Linked DNA regions of Homo sapiens. The main gene of each other region encodes a partner of the protein of the gene in region 4 in a complex. Each region holds a gene or a part of one and is shown on either strand. Other genes may lie near its edges. The genes, in order: PPP2R1A, YWHAZ, MOB4 and STK26.

Evidence for each region.
Region 1: STK26 (region 4) and PPP2R1A share a complex: the UniProt entries of both Homo sapiens proteins name them as parts of the core of STRIPAK complex.
Region 2: the proteins of STK26 (region 4) and YWHAZ are in contact, whole or in part, in a crystal structure (PDB 5XY9), measured with the Homo sapiens proteins. Residues at the interface, in NP_057626.2 of Homo sapiens: Arg316, Glu317, Asn318, Asn319, Thr320, His321, Pro322, Glu323, Trp324, Ser325; in NP_001129171.1 of Homo sapiens: Lys49, Asn50, Gly53, Ala54, Arg56, Arg60, Lys120, Arg127, Tyr128, Leu172, Asn173, Val176, Tyr179, Glu180, Asp213, Leu216, Ile217, Leu220, Asp223, Asn224, Leu227, Trp228.
Region 3: the proteins of STK26 (region 4) and MOB4 are in contact, whole or in part, in a crystal structure (PDB 5YF4), measured with the Homo sapiens proteins. Residues at the interface, in NP_057626.2 of Homo sapiens: Phe326, Thr327, Thr328, Val329, Arg330, Lys331, Lys332; in NP_056202.2 of Homo sapiens: Gln99, Gln105, Trp106, Ile107, Phe108, Leu109, Ala111, His113, Lys114, Thr115, Pro116, Glu118, Tyr124, Arg161, Arg162, Arg165.

What each region holds. Positions count from the first base shown.
Region 1 is NC_000019.10:52,221,023-52,228,052, reverse strand, and holds part of PPP2R1A (serine/threonine-protein phosphatase 2A 65 kDa regulatory subunit A alpha isoform), read right to left. Parts: coding exon 6,920-7,030; intron 6,034-6,919; exon of another isoform or gene 5,955-6,033; coding exon 5,812-5,954; intron 2,337-5,811; coding exon 2,245-2,336; intron 2,089-2,244; coding exon 2,072-2,088; 3' UTR 1-2,071. UniProt on the Homo sapiens protein: The PR65 subunit of protein phosphatase 2A serves as a scaffolding molecule to coordinate the assembly of the catalytic subunit and a variable regulatory B subunit.
Region 2 is NC_000008.11:100,915,993-100,921,020, reverse strand, and holds the end of YWHAZ (14-3-3 protein zeta/delta), read left to right. Parts: intron 1-268; coding exon 269-328; 3' UTR 329-4,498; downstream 4,499-5,028.
Region 3 is NC_000002.12:197,511,604-197,519,073, reverse strand, and holds the start of MOB4 (MOB-like protein phocein), read right to left. Parts: upstream 3,009-7,470; 5' UTR 2,988-3,008; coding exon 2,928-2,987; intron 2,777-2,927; exon of another isoform or gene 2,719-2,776; intron 1-2,718.
Region 4 is NC_000023.11:132,019,123-132,026,327, reverse strand, and holds the start of STK26 (serine/threonine-protein kinase 26), read right to left. Parts: upstream 3,027-7,205; 5' UTR 2,921-3,026; intron 2,821-2,920; 5' UTR 2,711-2,820; coding exon 2,669-2,710; intron 1-2,668. UniProt on the Homo sapiens protein: Serine/threonine-protein kinase that acts as a mediator of cell growth. Modulates apoptosis. In association with STK24 negatively regulates Golgi reorientation in polarized cell migration upon RHO activation.

The DNA.
Region 1 (7,030 bases), on a different chromosome or scaffold from region 4:
AGAAAAACTGGGTTAGTATTTAAGGCAGGACTTCTCTAACTTCAGTGTGCAGATGAACCTGGGCATCTTGTTAAAATGAAGGCTCTGCCTGAGCAGGTCGGGGCAGGGACGAGAGGCTCTGCATTTCTAACAAGCTCCTGAGAATGCAAAGGCTGCTGGTCCACTGCACTCTTGTTACAATGGACCAGCAGCGTTAACCATGGGGAAAGTCAAAGTTTAATGTCAGACTTTGACGTTTGGTTACACGTGTGTTCACATTTCTAGAGCAGTAGTTCTCAACTGGGAGAGAGTTTATCGCCCAGGGCATAAATGGAAATTTCTAAAGATGCTTTTTGGTCTCCTTCAGCCTCATCCCCTAGGGCACAATAAAGTCTAACAAAGGGTAGGGATGTGGTAATATGAAGGCTGAGCTGGTGAAATCACCTTGTCACTCAAAGCCACATTTCCCTTCCACCACCTGGGTCAAAATGTGCTCAAGCATCATTTCCTCTGTGAAACCCTTCCATGCAGACACCACCAGCCATACGTCCCTTGCTCCTTTCTCCAGGGTGCTCTGGGCCCCTCCCTCCATCAGTTAGAATTCCGGTCACCTTCAAGTGATGAAACCCTAAACGAACAGGCACTTGACCAGTTTAATTCTCCCAGGTGACAGTACTGGCATGGCTCTTCACAGCCTCGGGGAGGCAGGCTCCTTCTCTCTTGTCCTGCCTTACTTGACCTTCACGCCTAAGATCATTTTCTGGCCCCAGGTGGCAGCTCCTACTCCAGCCATCTGGTCCACATTCCAGAGTGCAGGAAGGAGGAAAGGTGGGGGATGACGCCTTCCCCCTTAAGAACACTTCCTAGAAGCTGCATATACCACTTCTGTTCAACATCTTTTTGGCTAGAATTTGGTCACAATACCACACCTAATTTCAAGAGACACTAGGAAAATACCTTGAATCCATGTAGTCATCTGCCCAGTTAAAAATCAGAGCTTCTACATTAGGAAGGGGAGAATAGATACCGAGATAACTGATCTATCTTGCCACAGTTCTCTCCCTAGTACCGTCCTGATTACTCTGAGACCTCCTGGGGACAGGGTCCAAGCCCAAGTCTTCTTCAAGAACACAGGAAATGGCCCACAGGGGGTTCTCTGGCAATGTACAGCTAACTCTGCTTCTCATGTTGTGTACTTCTCATGTTGAAACTGTTACACACTTTCCAGGTACTAATTCACTTGGTCCTCGCCACCCACCCTGCAATCTAGGTATTACTGTAACTCTCATTTTACACAATACAAAACTGAGCTCATAAAGACTTAACAAGCTACTCCTAGTCACACGTCTATTAACTGAAGGAGCCACAATTTGGACCCAGGCAGTCTGGTTCCAAGGCACCTGCTCTTAACCCCCCAAATACTCGGCCGACATCTATGAATCTGAACTGCACTACAGGACACCACCCAGAGCACCTCATGGACCCTCTACCCCAAAGGCCAGCAGCACTCCTGGGGGGATCCCCAGAGTATTCTTTCGGGACATAGGGGTATAATGGGTCCTGTAACAAGATCTTCTCCAGAGAAAAGCGCAGATGTTGTGGCTCTGGGGTGGTGCCCCCTCCTCCAAGCTGATGACTAAGGCCAGAGGACCAACTACTTCTAGACCTTTATTTCTCTGTGAAAAGGGGGAAAATAAAAGGAATAAAATAAAAACGGCACAGTTGACACACAAAAAAAAACCAATGATGGGGAGGACGGGAGGTGGAGAAGTAAATGGGGGAGGGGTTCCCATTACAGCAGCAGGATCCAGTGACCCGGGATGCTCACATCTCTCCCTGACGTGGGCGGAGTAGCCCCTTCCTCCCAAGGTCACTGTCCTGTCCAACCCCGTGCTCCCCTAGCCCGTTGGGAGGTGGACAGTGAGACATCTTCCCAGGCTGGGGAGAGGAGGAACCGTGCTGGGGGAAGGGGCCTGGGGTCAGACCATGCACAGGGAGTGACAGCCAAAGGCCCCCCAGTGTCTCCCCAAAGAGGGACTTGTGGGGGTTGGAGGGTGGACACCAGAGGCCAGTGTTTGCTCCTCTTCCAGCATCAGGCGAGAGACAGAACTAGGAAAACAGGAACAGGCAAGAATCAGAACCAGAGCCCTCTCTCTGCCCACAATGCCAAGGTACCTCCCCCTCCCAGAAGCTGCTGCCCACAGGCCCAGTGCCTGTCCTCAAAGTCCACCCTCCTGCTAGGGCTCCGTGCTTTCTAGGTCTTACCAGTCAGAGCCTCCTGGGCAAAGTATTTGACGTCCACATCCTGGTCCTGGGTCAGCTTCTCTAGGATGGGCTTGACTTCACTCTGCAAGGTGCTGGAAAGCGAAAGGAGACAGGGAGAGAGAGGGTGAGCCAGGATGGACTGGGGCAACAGGTGGGCACAGGGCTCTTGGGCAAGAGAGTGTACACAGACACGGATACACCAAACCCAAGGTGGGAGGAGTCTCAAGAATCCAGGGCACACACAGGAATTAGAAATCTCTGATCACTGCACAGGCGGGTGACCATAGTTAATAATAACATTTTGCATATTTCAAAACAGCTATAAGAGAAGATTTTGAATGTTCTCATCACAAAGAAACAGTAAACATTTAAGGTGATAGATATGCTAATTATCCTAATTTGATCATTACACATTTGCACACATTATTGAAACACTACTATACCCCCATAAATATATAAAATTATGAGTCAATTAAAAGTAAAATCAGGCCGGACGTGGTGGCTCACATCTGTAATCCCAGCATTTTGGGAGGCCAAGGTGGGTGGATCATCTGAGGTTGGGAGTTTGAGACCAGCCTGGCCAAACCAACATGGAGAAACCCTGTCCCTACTAAAAACACAAAATTAGCAGGGCGTGGTGGTGCACGCCTGTGATCCCAGCTACTTGGGAGGCTGAGGCAGGAGAATTGCTGGAACCTGGGAGGCGGAGGTTGTGGTGAGCCAAGATTGCATCATTGCACTCCAGCCTGGGCAACAAGAGCGAAACTCCGTCTCAAAAAAAAAAAAAAAAAAAAAAAGGTAAACTCAAGGCCGAGCACGGGGGCTCAAGCCTGTAATCCTAGCACTTTGGGACGCCAAGGTGGGCAGACCACTTGAGGCCAGGAGTTCAAGACCAGCCTGGACAACATGGGAAAACCCCCATCTCTACTCAAAGTACAAAAATTAGCCAAGCATGGTGGTGCACACTTGTAATCCCAGCTACTTGAAAGGCTGAGGCACAAGAACTGCCTGAACCCAGGAGGCAGAGGTTGCAGTGAGCCGAGATCGCACCACTGTACTCCAGTCTGGGCGACAGAGCGAGATTCTGCCTCAAAGGAAAACCAAACAAACTGCAAAAAACCAACCAACCAACCAATTACTTAAAGGTCAGAAGTATGATAAACAAGGACTGGGGCCCCAAACAGGGAGATCAGAGCAGGCTGGGAAAGTGGAACAGAATCTCAGAACCCCCAAGTCTCTGAGGCCCAGCAAATGGGTATCTTTCATTGATTTCACACATATTCACTGAGGCCTACAATGTATTAGGAGTGAATACAGAGCTAAATCACTCTTGATTTCTGCCATGAGGCACCCGGGCCAGGAGGAAGAGACCAAACTGGTACGTAAGAGGGGAGTGGTAAGTGGCCCCAAGGGGAAGTTCCTGGTCCTCCAGGAGCCCAGAGGAGGCATCCACTCTCATCTATGGGGCCCAGGGAAATCCGCCTGCACCAAGAGTCAATTGTTTTGGAAAACGGAGGGGGACTTCGGAGAGAAACTAAAGCTGAGGTTGTGTCCTGGAACAGACAGAAAGAGAAATCTGCAGTTGTGGGTCCCACACTTTCAGTTGACAGTTCCCTGTTCTCCCCAAATAACCACTATTCTTACTTCCATCATCTCGATTCCTTCATTCTGCCTGTTTCTGAACTTGACATAAATGGTGTGTTTTCTTGATTTTGGCTCCTCACTCAACATGGTATCTGTGAGAGTCACCTGTTGCTGCTTATAGCAGGCATTTGTTTCGTCACTGCTGAATAGTTTTCCACTGTTTGAATGAACTAAAATTTATCTACTCTACTGTGGACAGACATGGAGGTTGTTTCCATTTTTACGGCTACTATGAATAAAGCTACCATGAACATTCTTCTGACAGAAACAGCACTCATTTCTCCTGGATAGAGACCCAGGAGTGGAAGGGCTGTTTCACAGGCTGTTTGTATAACAAGCTTCACCAAATTCCACTCCAGATCCACTCCCGTTTTCAGAGTGATCAAACCCTAAATGTACAGCCCCACGTGCAATGGATGAGAGTTCCAGCTCTTCTATGTCTTCACCATTTGCACCACTGAGTCTTTTTTAATGTTGGCTGTTCTGGGAGGCGTGTAGTCATATGTCACTGAGATTTAATTTGCATTTTCCTGAAGGCTAATGATGCTGAACACCCTTGTCATATGCTTACTGGCTATTTGGAGATCCTTTTTCAAGTGCCTATTCAAGTCTTTTTCCCCATCTCTTTCTTGTCTTGCCTGATTTGTAGACAGGTATTGTGGATGAGTCCTTTCTCAGAAACATATATTAAAACATCTTCCTCCAGTCAGTGGCTTGCATTTTACTCTCAAAATGCTGTCTTTTGAGAAACAGCGTTACATTTTACAGAAGGTCAACTTACCCATCACTTCCTCTGGTTTGCTGTTTAACAAATCTGTGCCTACGCTAACTCAAGAAGATATTTTCCTACATTTTCTTCTAGGTCCTTTATTTTTAAAATCTTTCTGGTTCTGGTCTGTCATCTCAAATTAATTTGTTTATGCATTGAGGCGAGCCTTCTTTTATTCCTAAATGGATATCAAATTGACTCAGCTATGTTTTTTAAAAAACATACATTTCTCCACTGAACTGCAGAGATGCCTACTGTTAAACACATGTGGGACTGTTTCTGTACCCTTGATTCCATTCTATTGGGCGATTTAAATATGCTTGTGTTCACATCTATTTTAATTATTGTGGTGTCATAAGTCTTCGTCTCTGGTAGTGTAAATCAGACAACTTTGTTCATTAGAAGTGTCAATTTTCCACTAAAGAACCTGTTAAGATTATTGGGCTTATACTGAATCTAAAGATGAGTTCAGGGAACTGTCCCATCCGTGAATATTATGTAGGTCTGCTTTAATTTTTTTTGAGACAGTCTCGCTCTATCGCCCAGGCTGGAGTGCAGTGGCATGATCTCAGCTCACTGCAACCTCCACCTCCTGGATTCAAGCAATTCTCTTGCCTTCAGCCTCCCAAATAGCTAGGATTACAGGTGAGTGCTACCGCACCGGCTAATTTTTTGTATTTTTACTAGAGACGGGGTTTCGCCATGTTGGCCAGGCTGGTCGTGAACTCCTGACCTCAACTGATCCGCCCACCTTGGTCAGGTCTGCTTTAATTTCTCACATTAGTGTTTTACAGTTTACATTAGAGGTGTTACATACACATCTTTCATTGAATTTATTCCTGGCTATTTGATATTTTTGGTGCAATTATAAATTATACACATACTTACATATAAAACATAAGGTGATTTCATTTTCTAATGACTTGTTGCTAGTATACAGGACTGCCAACCCATCACCCCCTCTTTCTATTTCATGCTGTGATGTTCATTTTACAGTTGAGAAAACACACCTTGAGAAGGGAAGGGAGCCAAGGTCACACAGCAAGCAAGGAGCGCTGCCAGGCCTCTGACCCTGGGCTCTACCTTCAAAGGTCAAAGATTAAGGTGCCCACAAGAAGCCCCTGCCAGTGTGTGGGGGAGTATCCAGACCTCACCTGTTGTCCAGGATGGGCCCTATCTTCTGCAGAGACTTGGCCACATTGAAGCGGACATTGGCAACCGGGTCCCCAGCCATGCGCAGAACCGTGGGTAGCATGTGCTTGGTGGTGATGTCCTGCCCACAGACCTCAGACAGCACCTGGGGGCCAGTGAGTGGCAGGGGTGAGTATGCAAAGCTCCTGGCTAACTCTCATTTCCTGCTGCCTCTGACCAGGCCACTCTGGTGATCATCAGGCCCCACAGAGGCTGAGCAATACGGGTGACTCAGTTAGTGGAGTGAATCTCCCAACTCCACTAACACCATCCTAACACCATGTCCCAGTTTCTCTGTCCTCAGGCTTCCCTTAATTATTCTGGAGATCGACCTTAATTACCAAGCCCTAGGATCCCTCCTTAAAGCAATGCTCTCCAGAGAGTGGCGTGGGAAGAAATGATCAGAACACTTAGTTATATTTATTTTTAAATCCCTTCCTTTCTAGCCCTGTGTATGGTTTACACATAAATAAGTAGTACATGAGATAATTATAATCGTAGGAAAAGCAAATAGACAGGAGCACTTCCTACCTGTAGCATAACTGTTCTAAGCCCTGTGCGTGTATAACCTGATTAATCTTCACGCTCACCAGGCTGTGATTACCAGTATGAATTCTTTACAGTATGAATTATTTACAAATGAGAAGACCAAAGCATCGGTTAGGTAACTATCCAAGGTCCATAGCTAATATATGGCAGTACCAGAATTTAAAACTAGGTCTGACCTAGAGCCCATACACTCACCCAACGCACCACAGATAGAGACACACATTTCTCAGGGAAGGAGAGGGGTGCTCATAAAGCTTGAGATCGCTGCTCCAACAGGTCAAGTCTCCCAGGCCCTGGGTCCCTCACCATCCAAGTCCCCAGTCCCAGAGGCCCTATGACCCTGACCCTGGGAGCCCCACCCCCTTGCCTGCAGTTCCCCAAGGACTCATCTCTGGATAGAAGATGCACTCCATGTCTCCATTCCCAAGCCAGGTGTCTCCCTTGGGGAACCCTCTAGCATCCCTCCTCTCCCACGCGCTCCAGTTCCCTAGGGATGGGCCAGCAGGCAGGTGGAAGGCTCACATTGATGCAGAAGAGCGTAGTCATGCGGTGCAGGTAGTTGGGGTCTCCGGACATGGCCAAGACCTTGGGGATGATTGTGGCATGGGCCCACTCCTTCCCAAACTTTTCCAC
Region 2 (5,028 bases), on a different chromosome or scaffold from region 4:
TCACCTTCTGTGGATAACCAAAACTTTCCTGTATCTGAAGGTTATTTGAAGGCAACTCTGTGGTGTACTTAACCTGCTTATATAGTGGTTACAAAAAAAGTAAATTTGTATATTGAGATGTTTTTGTATCTTGAAGCTAAGTGATGCTGCTATCTTTTTAAGAATGCTTTCCAACTAAAACATTCAGGTATCTTGGCACTTATATGAAAACGCCCCCCCCCCCCCATCCCACTGAAACTTGCTGAAAAATCTTTCCTTCTTTTACCAGTTGTGGACATCGGATACCCAAGGAGACGAAGCTGAAGCAGGAGAAGGAGGGGAAAATTAACCGGCCTTCCAACTTTTGTCTGCCTCATTCTAAAATTTACACAGTAGACCATTTGTCATCCATGCTGTCCCACAAATAGTTTTTTGTTTACGATTTATGACAGGTTTATGTTACTTCTATTTGAATTTCTATATTTCCCATGTGGTTTTTATGTTTAATATTAGGGGAGTAGAGCCAGTTAACATTTAGGGAGTTATCTGTTTTCATCTTGAGGTGGCCAATATGGGGATGTGGAATTTTTATACAAGTTATAAGTGTTTGGCATAGTACTTTTGGTACATTGTGGCTTCAAAAGGGCCAGTGTAAAACTGCTTCCATGTCTAAGCAAAGAAAACTGCCTACATACTGGTTTGTCCTGGCGGGGAATAAAAGGGATCATTGGTTCCAGTCACAGGTGTAGTAATTGTGGGTACTTTAAGGTTTGGAGCACTTACAAGGCTGTGGTAGAATCATACCCCATGGATACCACATATTAAACCATGTATATCTGTGGAATACTCAATGTGTACACCTTTGACTACAGCTGCAGAAGTGTTCCTTTAGACAAAGTTGTGACCCATTTTACTCTGGATAAGGGCAGAAACGGTTCACATTCCATTATTTGTAAAGTTACCTGCTGTTAGCTTTCATTATTTTTGCTACACTCATTTTATTTGTATTTAAATGTTTTAGGCAACCTAAGAACAAATGTAAAAGTAAAGATGCAGGAAAAATGAATTGCTTGGTATTCATTACTTCATGTATATCAAGCACAGCAGTAAAACAAAAACCCATGTATTTAACTTTTTTTTAGGATTTTTGCTTTTGTGATTTTTTTTTTTTTGATACTTGCCTAACATGCATGTGCTGTAAAAATAGTTAACAGGGAAATAACTTGAGATGATGGCTAGCTTTGTTTAATGTCTTATGAAATTTTCATGAACAATCCAAGCATAATTGTTAAGAACACGTGTATTAAATTCATGTAAGTGGAATAAAAGTTTTATGAATGGACTTTTCAACTACTTTCTCTACAGCTTTTCATGTAAATTAGTCTTGGTTCTGAAACTTCTCTAAAGGAAATTGTACATTTTTTGAAATTTATTCCTTATTCCCTCTTGGCAGCTAATGGGCTCTTACCAAGTTTAAACACAAAATTTATCATAACAAAAATACTACTAATATAACTACTGTTTCCATGTCCCATGATCCCCTCTCTTCCTCCCCACCCTGAAAAAAATGAGTTCCTATTTTTTCTGGGAGAGGGGGGGATTGATTAGAAAAAAATGTAGTGTGTTCCATTTAAAATTTTGGCATATGGCATTTTCTAACTTAGGAAGCCACAATGTTCTTGGCCCATCATGACATTGGGTAGCATTAACTGTAAGTTTTGTGCTTCCAAATCACTTTTTGGTTTTTAAGAATTTCTTGATACTCTTATAGCCTGCCTTCAATTTTGATCCTTTATTCTTTCTATTTGTCAGGTGCACAAGATTACCTTCCTGTTTTAGCCTTCTGTCTTGTCACCAACCATTCTTACTTGGTGGCCATGTACTTGGAAAAAGGCCGCATGATCTTTCTGGCTCCACTCAGTGTCTAAGGCACCCTGCTTCCTTTGCTTGCATCCCACAGACTATTTCCCTCATCCTATTTACTGCAGCAAATCTCTCCTTAGTTGATGAGACTGTGTTTATCTCCCTTTAAAACCCTACCTATCCTGAATGGTCTGTCATTGTCTGCCTTTAAAATCCTTCCTCTTTCTTCCTCCTCTATTCTCTAAATAATGATGGGGCTAAGTTATACCCAAAGCTCACTTTACAAAATATTTCCTCAGTACTTTGCAGAAAACACCAAACAAAAATGCCATTTTAAAAAAGGTGTATTTTTTCTTTTAGAATGTAAGCTCCTCAAGAGCAGGGACAATGTTTTCTGTATGTTCTATTGTGCCTAGTACACTGTAAATGCTCAATAAATATTGATGATGGGAGGCAGTGAGTCTTGATGATAAGGGTGAGAAACTGAAATCCCAAACACTGTTTTGTTGCTTGTTTTATTATGACCTCAGATTAAATTGGGAAATATTGGCCCTTTTGAATAATTGTCCCAAATATTACATTCAAATAAAAGTGCAATGGAGACCTTGGGGTCTTTATTTCCAGGAGAAAAGATACCTTCTGCATCTAGGGCAACAATCCTTTTCCCTCGCAGCTCTTTCTTTTACCTCACTTACTGATTTCTCCTGACCCCCAAGCCAAGGAGGTAAAATAATTATATATATATATATATATATATATATATATATATAAAGTAATTATATTTTATAGCTAGACTGAAGAGGTGGGAATTTTTTTGTTGTTTTTTTTTTTTTTGGAGACAAGAGTCTTGCTCTGTCACCCAGGCTTGAGTGCAGTGGTGCGATCTCGGCTGAGTGCAACCTCCGCCTGCTGGGTTCAAGCGATTCTCCTGCCTCAGCCTCCCAAGTAGCTGGGATTACAGGTGCCCGCCACCACACCTGGCTAATTTTTGTGTTTTTAGTAGAGACAGGGTTTCACCATGTTGTCCAGGCTGGTCTTGAATTCCCGACCTCAGGCAATCCGCCCATCTCAACCTCCCAAAGTGCTGGGATTACAGGCATAAGCCACCGCGCCCAGTAGAGATGTGATATTATTCAAGTAAATAAAACCTGAAACTTGGCACATTTGCCTATTTAATGTGCATCAGTCATCTGAACTAGGTTGATCCTGGAATAATGAAAACACTTCACTAGTATTAACTAATGTTTTCTACATAGTAGTTCCCAATAGATTAAGGAAAATTTCCAACCTGAGATTCTTTGTTTTGGAATTTGAATAATGTGTTTGTAACTATTCCTTGATTGTCCCAAATCCAGGCTTTACGTCTGCTTTTGTCAATGTAACATCCTAGTGCCAGGAAATTGGAAAATCCAATGACTTTTTGTGTGTAAAGTACTGGAATTTTTTTGTTCGTTTGTTTTTAAGACGGAGTGTCAACTCTCGCCCAGGCTGGGGTGCAGTGGCCTGATCTCGGCTCACTGCAACCTTCTCCTCCCAGGCTGAAGTGATTCTCCTGCCTCAGCCTCGCAAGTAGCTGGGACTGCAGGCATGTGCCACCACTCCTGGCTAATTATTTGTATTTTTAGTAGAGAGAGGGTTTCACCGTGTTAGCCATGATGGTCTCATTCTCCTGACCTTGTGATCCGCCCACCTCGGCCTCCCAAAGTGCTGGGATTACAGGCGTGAGCCACTGTGCCCACCCTGGTATGTTTTTTTTAAATTGGCCACTTAAGAGTTGTCCTTCAGAAAGTGGAGCAGCAGTGTGATTAGTAAAAACGATGGGCTTTCCTGCAGCTCTGGCTTATGGTCTTTGTTTTTCCAGTTAACAGCTGTTACTTCATGCTGTTATAGGGGGTGGGGGGAGAAAGAGAAAGAATATGTCTAGTGGCTTAATTTTGGGGCTCAATTTGTTTATTATGTTTTTCCTGCAAAAGAGTCACCAGTCTTGTCATGGCTCAATGCATATTTTAAAATGAGTCAAAGCCAATTTGGAAGCTGCTATCTTAGGTTATTTGTAGTCAGGCTTCAAATGGAGAGTGAAACTTTGACTTTGAAAACTGGTGCTCTATGCTCAATGATGGTCTTACACATTCCTCTAGGGAAAGGTCAAGAAATAAATTTGGCTTGATTGTATTCTCTCATTTACCATATAGGAAATACTATGGTAGAACTGAAAATATGTACAATAGTAAAGTGGTGGCTGAGACTGGGCACTTGGAAAATAGACTTGGATTCTTTTCTAAGTGTGAAACTAATTAAATACTTTTATGTGACTGGTAGTAGTCACAGTCTCCTTGATTGATTCTAGTTCCTTTTCAAAGTGGAGAGACCTGAATATAGATTGTAACAGGATGTCCAACCTTGCCAGACAAGCAGGCATATATGTCTCTGGGATGCAGAAGCAGTTACAAGTTAATATATTTAAGCATAATGTTAGCCAATCCTAGGTGATACCAGAGATGTGAATATTTGATCATATTTGAGTTCATTCCTTGAAAGTCCAAACCTAACTGGTCTTAATTGATTACTTCTTAGTATTCCGAATTTTAGAATTTAAAACCCTATGAATTTTCAGTTTGTGCTTACATTTTCTAACATTGGATGTTTGCTTTGGCCAGCTGCTGTTCTGTGTGTTTTCTTACAAAGGCTTAGAGATTCTGGCTGGGTGTGGTGGCTCACGCCTGTAATCCCAGCACTTTGGGAGGCTGAGGCGGGTGGATCACCTGAGGTCAGGTGTTTGAGACCAGCCTGGCCAACATGGTGAGACCCCATCTCTACTAAAAATACAAAAAATTTAGCCGGGCATGGTGGTGCGTGCCTGTAATCCCAGCTCCTCGGGAGGCTGAGGCAGGAGAATTGCTTGAACCCGAGAGGCGGACGTTGCAGTGAGCCAAGATCATGCCATTGTACTCCAGCCTGGGCAACAAGAGCAAAACTCTGTCAAAAAAAAAAAGGGCGGGGGGCGCTTAGAGATTCATGTTTGAGTGAAGATTTGCAGAATGGGACCCAAATGGATATACAGCACAATCAAGATGCAGGGAATTAAGAACTTAACATGTGCTTGTAGGTTTGGGTTTGGGGGCTATGTGGGAGTATAAAAAATAGGCTATGTCTAGACTCCCGAGGGGAACTCGTTTTAAATGCCTA
Region 3 (7,470 bases), on a different chromosome or scaffold from region 4:
AAATACAAAAAAAATTGGCTGGGCGCAGTGGCTCATGCCTGTAATCCCAGCACTTTCAGAGGCCGAGACGGGCGGATCACGAGATCAGGAGATCCAGACCATCCTGGCTAACACAGTGAAACCCCATCTCTACTAAAAATACAAAAAAAAATTAGTCAGACGTGGTGGTTAGCGCCTGTAGTCCCAGCTACTCGGGAGGCCGAGGCAGAAGAACAGCGTGAACCCGGGACGTGGAACTTGCAGTGAGCCAAGATCGTGCCACTGCACTCCAGGCTGGGCGACAGAGTGAGACTCTTGTCTCAAAAAATAAAATAAAATAAATAAAAATAAAAATAAAAATAAAATTAGCCGGGCGTGGTGGCAGGCACCTGCAATCCCAGCTACTCAGGAGGCTGAGGCAGGAGAATCACTTGAACTTGGGAGGCAGCGACTGCAGTGAGCTGCGATCGTGCCACTGCACTCTAGCCTGGGCGACAGAACGAGACTCTGCCTCACACACAAAAAAAAAAAACCTCCAGGTGCAATGGCTCACGCCTGTAATCCCACCATTTTGGGAGGCCCAGGCGGGCAGATCACCTGAGGTCAGGAGTTCGAGACCAGCCTGGTTAACATGGTGAAACCCAGTTTCTGCAAAAAATTAGCTGGGCGTGGTGGCACGCGCCTGTAATCCCAGCTACTCGGGAGGCTGAGGCAGAAGAATCGCTTGAACTCGGGAGGTGGAGGTTGCAGTGAGCCGAGATCGCACCATTGCACTCCAGCTTGGGGGCAACAAGAGAGAAACTCTGTCTCAAGAAAAAAACAAAAAAAAGAAAGAAAGAAAGAAAAAGAAAAAAGAAAACCAACTATGTGCCTATATTCCAGTCTAACCAACTTTTTTTTTAATGTAGGAAGATACTCCACCTACTCTCCTATAGTTTTTTGTTTGTTTGTTTGAGACCGAGTTTTGCTCTTGTTACCCAGGCTGGAGTGCAATGGCGCGATTCCGGCTCACTGCAACCTCCGCCTCCCGGGTTCAAGCGATTCTCCTGCCTCAGCCTACCGAGTGGCTGGGATTACAGGCGCCCGCCACCACGCCCAGCTAATTTTTTGTATTTTTAGTAGAGACGGGGTTTCACCGTGTTGGCCAGGCTGGTCTTGAACTCCTGAACTCAGATGATCCGCCTGCCTCCACCTCCCAAAGTGCTGGGATTACAGGCGTGAGCCACCGCACCCAGCCCTCTATTATAGTTTTTAATTTTTTTTCTTTTGACCCAATAGGGAAGGAGATACGGTTCTAAATATATCATTTTAGAACAGATCCATTTCACTAAACGAAATTCATGTGATAAACAAGATAGGACAAACTACGGCGTAAGCAGTCTTTTTCATTTTTTATCCTTTTTCTGTTATATTTTATCTAACAACCTTGATCCATGACAATGTGAAAAAAAAAGACAATAAGTTTTCTTCTATGTGACTTACAGCAACATAGCAAGTATGTTACGATATTAAATATTTTATTTTCTAACCTTTCAAAATTAAGAACTTATGAATAAATGAGATGACTCTCAGAATATGAACAGAAAAGTCTACTTCTGAACATAAAAATGTAATCAGAAACAATGTTTCCACAGAATAAGATGTAAAGGTATCTGAGAAAAGAGCATGAGGAAGAAAAGTGTGGAAACGGTAAAAAGCAAGCATATGTAACGGATAAATTTCCAGTAGTATGAAAACAAAACTGTCAGTAGGAATAACTGACAGCTTAATGTGACTCCAAAATAAGACTTTAAAATTTTCTCTGAAATTCAGCACTAGAAGCAGCTTGTTAAAGAGAACAGGTCACCAGTGAATTAAGAATCAGGAGACTATGTATCCTTGGGCAAATCCACTTAATTCTCTTGGGCTTCAGTTTCCTTATCTGTAACATGAATCTGGGGAGGTAATCAATACCTGTATGCCCCCTTCGAAAGGTGTTCTTTCCATAATTCTGTATAAGAAATTAAAATCTATTCTCAGACATACAATCATAGCTCCACGATTGTTTTGTTTCAATTTTCATTTGCATCACTTTTTAACATTTTATAAACACATCTCTTCCGATTTCAGAGCATCTAGTCTATAGCAAGCCATTTCGGCTAGCAATTAATCAGTTCAAGTCTGGATGCCAATTTTATTTATTTATTTTTAATGTGAGGCATCCCATCTTTTCCAAACCCTAAGAAACAATGCCTAATCAAGCACCAATTTACCACACATAATGCCCTACAAAAAAGCTGACAAAATTATAATCAGTTCATTCTCTGACTATGCTTCACGCATATTAGCAAGGAATGACATCTAACAAGTCACAACTTAGTGATGAAAACTTGCTGGACCAGAGAACAGCTCCAGGGAAAGCGGCAGGGAGAGGTGGTCAAAGGGAAACAAGGAGGAGAATATCGGCACCCGGATCCGGCTAGACAAGCTGGATGGCAGGAAACGGGTAGGTACTTCCCAGGCCAGGTAGGAACTGGACGCCGGGTCGAGGTAGGCTGTGTTTACACCCCCTCCCACCTCAGCGGCCCCGACCTTCAGGAAACCCCGGGGGTCTCCACCAGGCTGGTCGCGCCCCTCCAATGCTAGTCAGCTGGGGCTCAGGGGCAAGGCGAGAAGAAGCCGTTGCTGCTGACAGGCTCGCAGCCCAGGGCTTCGGCAGGCAGGTACCACCAGCAGACCCCACCCGCCCCTCACGCCTACCCCTGGGTCGGAGCTCCGCAGGCCTCACGGCGGCCGCCACCGCCTCAGCCAAATTGAGGGGCTGCAGCTCCGGAAGAGCAGGCCGGGCACCAGTGCCCCAGCCCGCCCGCCTGCCGCCTCGGCCCAACCTCCCCGCAGTGGCGGCCAGCTTCCGGGCGCAGCACTGCTCGGCACCTAGTTGCCCGACAAGAAAAGTGCAGACATGGTACCTGCGCCTTGGTGCCCGGCCTGTTCCGCCTCAGCACTGCCGTCCCCTCCGCCATGACCATAGTGCCAGCGTCTAGGCGGCTGGAGTCGGTACCCGGATGTAGGGACGGCAGCCTGCGCGGGGGGCGGGGCAGAGCGGCGCTCTGCGTCTGGGAGGAGGAGCGGCAGCTGACGGAACAGCTGCAGCCTGCGCCGGGAGCCGTCCGGGTAGAAGCGGGCTAGGCGGAGGGAGAGGGCGAACGAGGAACAGCCGGACGGCGTCGGGTGGCTACTGGCAGGGACTGAGGCACCGGAAGGCGGGCGCCACGAGCCTCTTTGCGAGGGCTGCGGGGCGGTTTGAAAGGTCGTGATCGCAGCGACCGCTGCGGCAGTGTGCACGGCTGCGTTGCACGTTGGTATGGGCTCTCGTTAGTTACACGGGAAGAACGAACTTCGTATAGTGGCGACCGTTTCAGTAAACCCACCTGCAAGCAAATACTTAGAGAACCGTAATTCTGTCCCAGAAGCCACCTAAGGAATCAGGGTAGAAAACAGGCCAGCAGTCTTGGCAAATTCTATAGAACCTGCGTGAAATCGACCCAATCTGAAATCAGACGGGGGATTTGAGTGTCAGTGTTATTTACGCCATCCGGCGACTTCAAAGCCAAGGACTTTTTCAATGACAAGTTTGTTTACGTAGATAAAAGACGCAGATGTCAATTATGTGAGATGAAGAGTGGACATCTGGTTTTGTGCGTTAGGCAGACAGATTTAGCTCGTGTTTTTCAAGTCAGAAGCAGGAGGAGGAAATTAGTAGTCCTTGACAGGTGGTGAGGGTTTTACATCTTACAGGATTCCACATTTCCTTTGTTGCAAATTTTAAGTGTTCTCTCTTAAGAAACCACAGCATTTTCGCAAACTTTTTTTCCTGCTTAGAAACCTTGAATCTTTTATCTGGGGTGAGGGAGGCCTTGGGATAGCAGATGGGAAGACAGTTCAAAAAGTAAAAAACGCATACAGTAGCATGATTTCCAAAAGAAGAAAACATCAAGTGTCCCTAGATAGAAGGTGTATTGAGAATGCTGAGGGAAGGGCCATGTAACAGCTTCCAGAAATGGAATTTGAGAGGAGAGGAGAGGTTGAGTGGGTCTCTAGCTGAGTAATTGTCAGTGACTTAGAACTAGGCATTGAAGGGTTTAACAACAGGAAGTTGGTTCTCTCTGGAAGATGTATTGACTGGTAACTCTTCAAGAATAGGGACTTAATTTTGCCCTCCCAGAACCAGCGTCTACATATGAAAAGATTATTCGTTCAACAGATACTCATTAAGCCCCACTATATGGTAGGCACTAATGTACAAGTATGATAAGGCTCAGTCCTTCACTACAAATTGCCTTGACTCCAGCAACAGAGACGTGCAAATCACAAATTCTTATACAGGTTAAGTACCCCTCATCTTAAAGTTTGGGACCAAAACACTTTCAGATTTCTGATTATTTTGGATTTTAGAATATTTGCATATACATAATGAGATTTCTTGGGGATGGAACCTAAGTTTAAATGTGAAATGCATTTGTTTCCTATACACCTTACACACATAGCCTGAAGTTACTTTTATACAATACTTTAAATAGGCCGGGAGCGGTGGCTCACACCTGTAATCCCAGCACTTTGGGAGGCTGAGGGGGGCAGATCACTTGAGGTCAGGAGTTCCAGACCAGCCTGGCCAACATGGTGAAATCCCATCACTACTAAAAATACAAAAATTAGCCAGGCGTGGCGGCAGGCGCCTATAAAACTTCAAATAATTTTGTGCGTGAAACAAAGTTTTGACTGCAACCGGTCACAGAAGGTCAGGTATGGAATTTTCCACCTGTGGCATCATGTGGATGTTCAAAGTTTCAGATTTGGGAGCATTTCAGATTCTGGACTTTTCAGATTATGGATGCTCAACTTGTATTAAATGCAACGAGAGCCTAGGACAAGTGACACGTAAATGTTGCCTCCCTTAGAGAGATGGGTTGGGTCTATGAGATAGCAGAGTCCCAGGGAGGCCTCTTGGTCTATAGATAACTCGCCTCACTTACTGCAAGGATTACGTTTACATTTCCCAGATTGTGTGATATTTCCCTGAGCTGTAAATAGTCACCTATAGTTGAATGGAATCATCTTCACTTTCTCTTAATTCCAGATTTGTTAAACTGTTTCAACCCATCTGAAACCAACAAAAAACGTGAATGAGTAGGTGTTAAATTCGGGAACAAAATGCACATTCGTTGTTTTTGAAAAGTCCAATAAAGTTGCATTCTGATGTCAACCCTGGCCTTGTTCATAGGAAGGACCTTGTTCTTTAGGGATAGAATGTTTCTAGCTCATAACCTTCACATTTTCATTCCTCTGTCAGCCTGTAGATTACGTACCTCCAAACAAGACAAATTTTATAACTAGGGTTAATTTGTCCGGGGTAGGAGGAGAGAGAAAAGAAAAACAAAAAGCATGATCAACAATAACAGTTACATGAAATACTTGAATATTTCAGGTAAAGGAGGAGTGGAGTGATCTGTTTAAAGGCAATATGCACCAGTAGGAATAGCTCTGGACTGGGATTCGGAAAATCTAGATTCTCTTGCCTGTTAACTGTTAAGACATTGAACAAGCTATCAAATAAATGTTTCTTCATGTGTAATGAAGATTGTGCATAGCAGTTCTTTCCCTCTGCCCCATAAAGTATGAAAGCAAGCATAAAATTAAATATGGAACCTTGAAGCTTTAGAAGAAAATATTTTATAAAGCCAAAGTATCATAAGTAATTTCAAATTATCCATGAGCTTCAAATCATTGACACATTAAAAAAAATTATCCAATAAAAATTCACTTTGGGGAATTTTTAAATCCAAATAAAAGAGTTAATGCAGGCCATGTGCGGTGGCTCAAGCCTGTAATCCCAGCACTTTGGGAGGCCGAGGTGGGCGGATCACGAGGTCAGGGGTTTGAGTCCAATGTGCCCAACATGGTGAAACCCCCGTCTTTTCTAAAAAAAAAAAAAATACAAAAATTAGCTGGGCACAGTGGTGTGCGCCTATAGTCCCAGCTACTCAGGAGACTGAGGCAGGAGAATCACTTGAACCCGGGAAGCGGAGATTGCAGTCAGCCGAGATTGAGCCACTGCACTCCAGTCTGGGCAACAGAGTGAGACTCCATCTCCAAAAAAAAAAAAAAAAAAGAGTTAATGCATATTATGTGCAAGGCACTGGGCTAAGTGCTGAAAAACATGAAGATATATAAGACAAGCTTTCCTCAAAGAGCCTTGAAATTAATGGGAAAGCATCTTATGTAGATTACTACAGTACAAGGCTGAACGCCTTAAGTATTGAAGCAGCCCCTTTCACATGCTCTTTGCAAACAGCCTCTGATCTTGCTCAGTGTTCTTCTCTCATGCTATGACCAGGGAAAGGTAAACCCATATCTAGCTGAGGGATAAATTCCTGTTGGCCTAAGTGTGAAAGGGCCAGCCTCTGTGGTTCACACCTGTAATTCCAGCACTTTGGGAGCCTGAGGTGAGAAGATTGCTTGAGCCCAGGAGTTCAAGACCTGCCTGGGAAACATAGTATAACCCCCCCCACATACACCCCCATCTCTACAAAAAAATACAAAAATTAGCTGGGCATGGTGGCACACACCTGTAGTCCCAGCTACTCAGGAGGCTGAGATGGGAGGATTGCTTGACGCTGGGAGTTCAAGGCTGCAGTGAGCCATGATTGCACCACTGCACTCCAGCCTGTGTGACAGAGTGAGATCCTGTCTCAAAAAAAAATAAAACAAAGAAAAGAAATGTGAAACGATGTAATGAAGCACTTTGGAGAAAGATTTACTTGCTCTTCAGAAGATACCAAAAGAGATGCTCTCTTTTTTCTGCCAATGGACATCACCCAATATGGGCCTGCAGCAGCCATTCTGGCTTAAAGGAAGCCAGTCTAAAAGCAAAGTTGGCACACTGTGAATGATGTATGTAGTTGTCATGTGTCTTAAAGTGTGGATAGCATTTATGTGCAGAGCTACAGGAGATTTCATTACAAGCCGAGCAAAGTTGAGGCAGCAGGGAAGCATGGGAATGTATATTCACAGTTGAACAAGTCAGTGCCTATGTATGGTTTCATACATCTTCAACGTATTATTTGAACATTATTCTCTGTCTGTTTTTTTGTTTTTTTTTTTTCTTGAGACAGAGTCTCACTCTATCGCCAGGTTGGAGTGCAGTGGCGTGATCTTAGCTCACTGCAACCTCCACCTCCCGGGTTCAAGCAATTCCCCTGCCTCAGCCTCCAGAGTAGCTGGGACTACAGGCGTGCACCATTATATTTTAGTAGAGACGGGGTTTCACCACGTTGGCCAGGATGGTCTCGATTTCCTGACCTTGTGATCCACCCGCCTCGGCCTCCCAAGTGTTGGGATTACAGGCGTGAGCCACCACGCCCAGCTTTTTTTTTTTTTTTTTAAGAGATTGTCTCACTTTGTTGCCCAGGCTGGTCTCAAACGTCTGGCCTCAAAGGATCCTCCTGCCTTGGC
Region 4 (7,205 bases):
AGTTTGAATAACTAATTCATAAGGAAGAGTTTGAACTGGACGAAATCCTGGGTTTTCTTTCTTCACTCCAAGTTTCTTTTCTATTTTAAACTAGTGGCAACAGCAATTTCTTTGTTTGAAAGTCAGGAATGCTGGAAATCTTAAGTGATAGAACAGGTAGCTGGGCTTCTACTTCACGTCTCTCCTCAGAGGGAGAAAATAATTGTGGATAAAGTAATTTTCTTTGTATTTCTGGAAAAATCATTTTTCCCATCAATCTTCATAATTCTCTAAAATAAACTGTTAAAAAGTTATAGGCTGGTCGGCTACCTCACCCTGATTTGTGGAAACACTATACAGTAATTTCAAGAACACATGGCTAACTGAAGTTTTCTAAAGGTCTAAAAGTTGCTCCTAACGCCTTCATAAAACTCTAGGAGAATTTTACAAGCTCACGATAGATTTCTGCATCTCATCTGCAATATTTTGCTACATAACAATAATAAAAATAGTCTAGCTTCAAGAGTCACACTGCATGCTATCAAATTTATTATTAAGGTATTGTACATTTTCAACTATGGAAAAAACTGTGTGCTGCACAAAGTGCTTAAGAACTACATTAGAAATAAAATGGAAATAAGAAGTTAAGAATTTACCATTTCATTAAGATGAAGAGAATGACCAAAAAAAAAAAAAAAAAAGATTCCTCTCTTCTTTGCTAACGTTGAGATGTTTGCCCTACTCAAATTAGGTGGGACAAAGTAATCACAACTCAGAGGGCACAGAGTGAAAGGCAGAATTTGTAATTTAAAGTATATGATTCACATTCGAATCCACATTAATTAAGATTTAAAAATTCAAGAGATAGGCAACTCAGATAATTAAAAGCAGGGAGCAATCAGAAATACTGAACAGCAAGCAGTTCCTAAACCATATAAATTCAATAAGTTCAAGACAAATAAAATAAAAATCAGAAACCATTTTCCCCTCAGCACACAGAGTTCCCCAGAATCACAAACTTGATGAACTGGAGGCACTCACTCTGCTGACGCACACACGCAGGCTCGCGCACACAATGGAGCGAGAAGCATGGAGACCCTCAGAGACAAACTTCACATGTGCATCGTTTTACTCTCCACAGAATGGAAAGAAGAGCACGGTGAGAAAATGTCACTTTTTCCCAGATCAAACAGCAAAACTGTACTTAGTATTGTGAACTATGAATTCCCTTGATACAATCAAAGGCAGAACTGAATGAATGGGGTGTGGGGCAGGGTGCGTGGGGAAAAGAAGGAGGGAAGGAGAGGGGAGGCCGCCTGAGAGGAAGAAAGTTTAAGGCATTTTGCAAGGCTTGAGTGGATTAATCTTTTTTTTTAAGCCCTACTATTTCCTATTTCCCTTTCTCTCTCTCTCTTTATTTAATATACACTAACTTCCTGAGACTCAACCCAGACTTGCCCTAAATGCAGCTGAAATGTCTGGTGTTTAGGACACACCAAGAGTTCTAGGTGCACAAATAAATCCCATTTTGGGAAAGAATTTAAAAATCACTTTTGTGGACATTCATAAAATGAGAACACTGAAAAAAAAAAAAAAACTCCATGTATCAATAAGTAAATTGAGGCCCCAGTCTACAGCTCTTTGATTTCTACTAGAAATATAAGCTATTTACTATAAACATTTTATTTTTGAACTTCAAAAAAGTTTGTTTTCACATTTTAGATCATGAAAGACTGAGGCTTCAGTGGTTTTAGCCCCTAAATGGGTTGTTTAGGCCATCTAGCAAAGGAAAAAAAAATAGAACATGAATGCTTTAAAAAGTTAGTAAATTTGGATAACACTTAGCAGATAGCCTAAAATGCACCGATTTAAAAACATAACAGCATAAAAAGTTTTCTGACATAGCTTATCTTTAATAAAATGAAAATATAATGGGAGGGGGTTGGGCTGGGTAGACTTCGAGTAACAAGTTGGGTCCCATGCAGTAGTCCCTTGTCCAAGACAAAAAGCTTCCTTTAACCACATGTAACAGTCATCTTGTGGGAAAGGCACGGAGGGGGCTGAGAAGTCATCACCTCAGTGACTCTGAACAGAACCAGCATTTCTCACGCCACACTATGGGCTGGGCTAGGTCGGGGAGCAAGCTACAACTTTGCCCTTAAGCAGCAGTACCGAAAGGGAGAAAGAGGTCACCTCTCTCTTAGCCCTACGCACACAGGAAGAGCCCAATTCAAGCCGCCGCCGCCGCCACCCCTGGTGTTGCCCCGCCCCAACTTGAGTGTGTGTTTGGGGTGGGGGGTGTAGGGCACTCACTACTCGCGTTATACCCCACAAATTCCAAGGCACTTCCATCTCTCCCAGGTTAAGTTCCGCCCCCCCATCCCCAACCGTGCCAAGCTCAGCAGGCGCAGGTGTCTGTGGCTCTGGCCTATTTTTATACCCCCAACCGCCCTCAATCTCCACCTAGTTGCGCGCTCCAGTCCCGCCTCGCCTTCCCAGCGAAGAGCACTACCTAGCCTACACACCAGGAAACACCTCCAGCCCTACTCCCAGGTCACCTGGCCATAGTGACCGGCCCTGCCCTCAGGGGAGCCCTGGGGCCGTCCCTTGTCGCCGGTGCCCAGCACCGAGGGCGCACCGGGCTCCCAAGCAGTCACGTGGGCGGCGGGGGCGGCCTGCGCTTCCTCACCTGCATCCCAGGCACTTGGACAGCCACCGGCGAGTGGGCCATGGAGGCGAATGCTGCCTCGCTCCGCTTCTGCGGCGGTGGCGCCTTGGGTTCGGACTGGCTCCTCCCTCCGGGGGTAGTTCGGCGGCCCTCCCAGGCTTTTCGATCGGGGCCTGGGAGGACACACAAAAGTGGGGTTACTGGGCTGGCGGCGCGTAGCCCGGGGCTAGGAGGTGGGCTGTTAGCGGCGCAGCTCCCTGGGACTCAGTCTACCTTTCTGGCGCCCGCCCGCCGCTGAAGCAGCCGCCTCCGCTGCTGCTCCTCTTCCTGAACGCCGAGCGCTGTGAGTGGTGGTGGCTGGGACCTGGGCTCGAGTGATGCCGCTCCTCTGCGCCTCGCCGCTTTAGGAAGAGGAGGTGGAGGCGCCCCAGCCACCCGCCTGCTCGCCTGGCCTGGGAGGCGGTTGGGGGCGGTTCCGCCGTTGGCCCTGCCCCCGCCCCGCAGCCGGGCGGTGTCGCGGGAGCCAAGGCTCCAGGCAGCGAAGAGGTTTGGCTGGGGTTGCTGGAGTCTGAGAAGCTGGAGACTCTCCCGGCACGCGGAGAGGAGAACCCGGGGACCCGGAGACCTGGGACATGGCTGGGCCTGGGAAGAGAATGGAAGAGTTTGGGAAACCCTGAGGGTATGAGGGCGCCCCAGATGCGGCCACGTTGCAGGGAGGCGTGCGAGGCTGGGGCACACGCAGCCTCGGAGACGACTTGAGCTGAAACTTGGGGAGTGTTGGAAGTCTTTCTTGGCTCCCCGGCCTGGCCAAGGGTAGGATTACAGATAGCCGCGGAGTCGGTGGACCCCCGCTTTTTCCCGCCATCTGGTCTCCTCAGCTGGGGGTCGCGCCTCTGGGCAGATCTGTGGCCACACTCTTGCTTTCCGAGTTCCCTGACCCCAAACATGCTTCAGGTGACTTCAACTTAAGGTTCCCCCTACCTCCTGGGCTATCCCTTGCAGAACGGCCAAACTAGGGCTTCTCTCTACCACAAGTTCTGCACGTGTAAGGCAGAGGGAAATTGGAAAACAGATGGTACATCGGCAGAAAAATTAATGAGGATAGTAGAGGCTTGGGAAATGAGATTGGATCGTTAGCAGTACAGGTTATTGAAATCAGCATACACTGCAGTGGTTTTGGTAACTCCCTGCCTCCGCCCCATTTTAAGTTCTACTCCAGGAGAGGGAGACAGGCTCTTTTGAGAGTACTCTAACAGTAGCGACAGTAACACTGGTAATAATAGTAACAGGAATTTCATTATGAAGGCACCTTTGGGAACACGTAAGGGGTTAATTACTTTTTAAAAAAGTAATAGTCGAGTGCCAGTTTAAAATGAAGATGAAGTTCCTTACCTTGAAATTTGTTATGGGTCTCTACGCACCACACGGTGGGGGGCCTCTAGTGGTAAAAGATAGTTTCTCTTCTTCCTTTTAAATCTTTTTCAGAGAATAGTATATAATTCTTATCAATATCGTTATTATTAATGGATATTATTTTCATTGTGCCAGGGACTGCTAAGTGCTTTCTATGTGTTATTAATACCTTACTGAACCTGTACAAGGGCCTTCTGGAGTCTTATTGATTTCCCCTCATTTTACAGATGAAGAAAAAGGCTCAACCAGGTTAAATAATTTGACCGAAATGTCACGCAATTAAGAAGTGGTACAGCTGGGAATTCAGACGCAGGTCCCTCTGACTGGTGATAAACTTACTACTTTCTCTATGGTTTCTGTTTGTGTTTAATGATGATAAAAGGTACAATTGCATTTTCCTTACTCCTAGTTCCCCAAGTCCAGCCCTTCACTATTTCTAACCTAATGTTAGGCTCCAATCTAGTCTCGATTTCCCACCAACCCAGCTCACAACATTGCCAGCCTGACCGGAAACCTGCAGTGCCACCTAAACTTTTAATGTCCATAGAAATCCGAGGGTTCTTTTGCTCCCTCAAAAGCGCAGATTTTTATCTCCCATGTCTGGACTGGGCCCAAGATTCTGCAATGCTAACAAGCTCTCACATGGTGATGATGTTTAGATCACACTTTTAAGTCGCAAGGGTCTGAATCAAGCTCCATCATTTAAGACCTGTCTCAAATCTCACCTCCATTGACCCTTCCTAGTTGCTCCAAGCCCTCCTTCAAACTCCTCCAATGTGAGCAGCGCTCACACTGTAGTTCTTTCTTCTTATTTCATATATTTCATTTGTTTTGTGTGCCCATATTAGGTCCTTGAGGGCAGAGATCCAGCCTCTCTTACATGAGAATGATTCAGGTAGGATGGCAGGAGTCTGAGGGCAAGCTTTTTATACATTTTGTCCATTGCTGTATCCCCAGAGACTAGGTTCATGGCATGTAGTAGGCCCTCAATAAATAATTGTTGAATGAATGAATGAACTTCTTTTGAATTCTCCACTGAGGTTACTAGGTGCATAATGTATACACTATATATTTTATTGATGTCAGGTTAAACCCCTAGGCATTGCCCTTACTGAACATTTAAATTGTTCAGTTTATTGTGTGTTACATCTTTCATTATTTAGTCTCCAAAATTCTTTCCTGCTAGTTTAATTTCACAACTACTTATGAGCCAGTTGTATAATTTTGATAGATAAGTAAATTAAGCATATCAGAGAAATGACTTTCTCTGACATCATTCTGGGCCAGAGTTATGTAACTATGTGGAAGAATAAAAGCTTAATGCTGAGACCTGGAATATTGAGACATTTCCTGAAAGACATTGCATTTGAGATCTTAGTGAGCTTTTTAGCCTTTATTTAGGTTTACTGCTATTAAATAAAGCATCAGTTGTTGTTATAATTGATAGAGATCACTTGAGTTTTTACATGGGATTGCTTGTGGGCTTTTAAATGATTTTTCCTGTGTGTGTGTGTGTGTGTGTCTGTGTCTGTGTGTGTGTGTGTATCTATAAATTAAATCTTGTGAAGGTGTCAACATTTGAAAACAATTCAAATTTTATGAGCATTAGAAACTTTTTTTCCACTTTGAACTGGATTATTTCTCAAATTCTTAAATAAAATGACAAGAAATTCAAGTACGCTTTTGTTACACACACACACAAAGGAAACTTAAATATTTTACTTCAAATTGTCAGCCCAGGCCAGGCGTGGTGCCTCACCCCTGTTCCCAGCACTTTGGGAGGCCGAGGCGGGCAGGTTACCTGAGGTCAGGAGTTTGAGACCAGCCTGGCCAACATGGCGAAACCCCATCTCTACTAAAAATACAAAAATTAGCTGGACATGGTGGTGTGTGCCTGTAATCCCAGCTACTCTGGAAGCTGAGGCAGGAGAATTGCTTGAACCTGGGAGGCAGAAGTTGCAGTGAGCTGAGATCATGCCACTGTACTCCGCCCTGGGCCACAGAGCGAGACTCCATCTCCAAAAAAAAAAAAAAAAAAAAGTCAGCCCAGAGTCTGAAAATATATTACAGTGTATTCCCGTAGTTTAATGGAAAACGTTTCTTGAGGAGAGACACAACTTATGCTTTTTGGTCACACGTAGAGTGTAACATAGCACCTCAGAAAGGATTTGGTACCTGCTTGATTGATGTGATCTGAATGGCTGTGAATACTTAATAACCATATAAATAAAATAAGATTATACACAGATTAGGTAAGGTTTTGAGTAACATTATACACAGATTAGGTAAGGTTAGTGAATTTCAAGTTAGACAGTGTTCTTGAGGCCTCAAAACTTAATAATTTACATTTGGCACCTGGTTTCAATTTCCTGACATTTGTCATACCCTCTATTCAGGTTGAGTATCCCTTATCCAAAATGCTTAGGACAAGAAGTGCTTCAGATTTTGGATGTTTTTGGAGTTTGGAATAATTGCATATACGTAATATCTTGGGTATGGGACACAAGTCTGAACATTAAATTCGTTTATGCTTCAGATACACCTTATATACATAGCCTGATGATAGTTTTATACAATATTTTTAATTTGTACATGAAACAAAGTTGGTATACATTGAACCATCAGAAAGCAAAGGTGTCAGGTATGGAATTTTCTACTTGTGATATCATGTCAGCACTCAAAAAGTTTCCAATTTTGGAGCATTTTAGATTTCAGATTTTCAGATTAGGGATGCTCAACCTGTATTAAATATTTAACTTTACCCATGTTTACAAATATTTACTGAATTGACTGGTTCTTAGCTAAAGTGTAGGTAGATGGAAATAGCCAAACTTTAATACAGGCGGCAGTGAAATAAGGGCATGTTTTTCAACTAGGACCAATTATGCCTTCTGGAGAACATTTCTGGGTATCACAAATAGGCAGGTAGGTGCTACTGGCATCTAGAGAGTGGAGGCCAGGGATGCTGTTAAACATCTTACGACGCACAGGGCAGTCCCCACAAGAAAGAACTATTCAGTCCACAATGTCAATAATGATAAGGTTTGAGAAACCATGCTCCGCACTTTTTGCATTAGGAGCTACTAACCAAGAAACAGACTTGAAAATCATTGTTCTCTGAAGATTTTAGCTCAGTGTTGTGGCT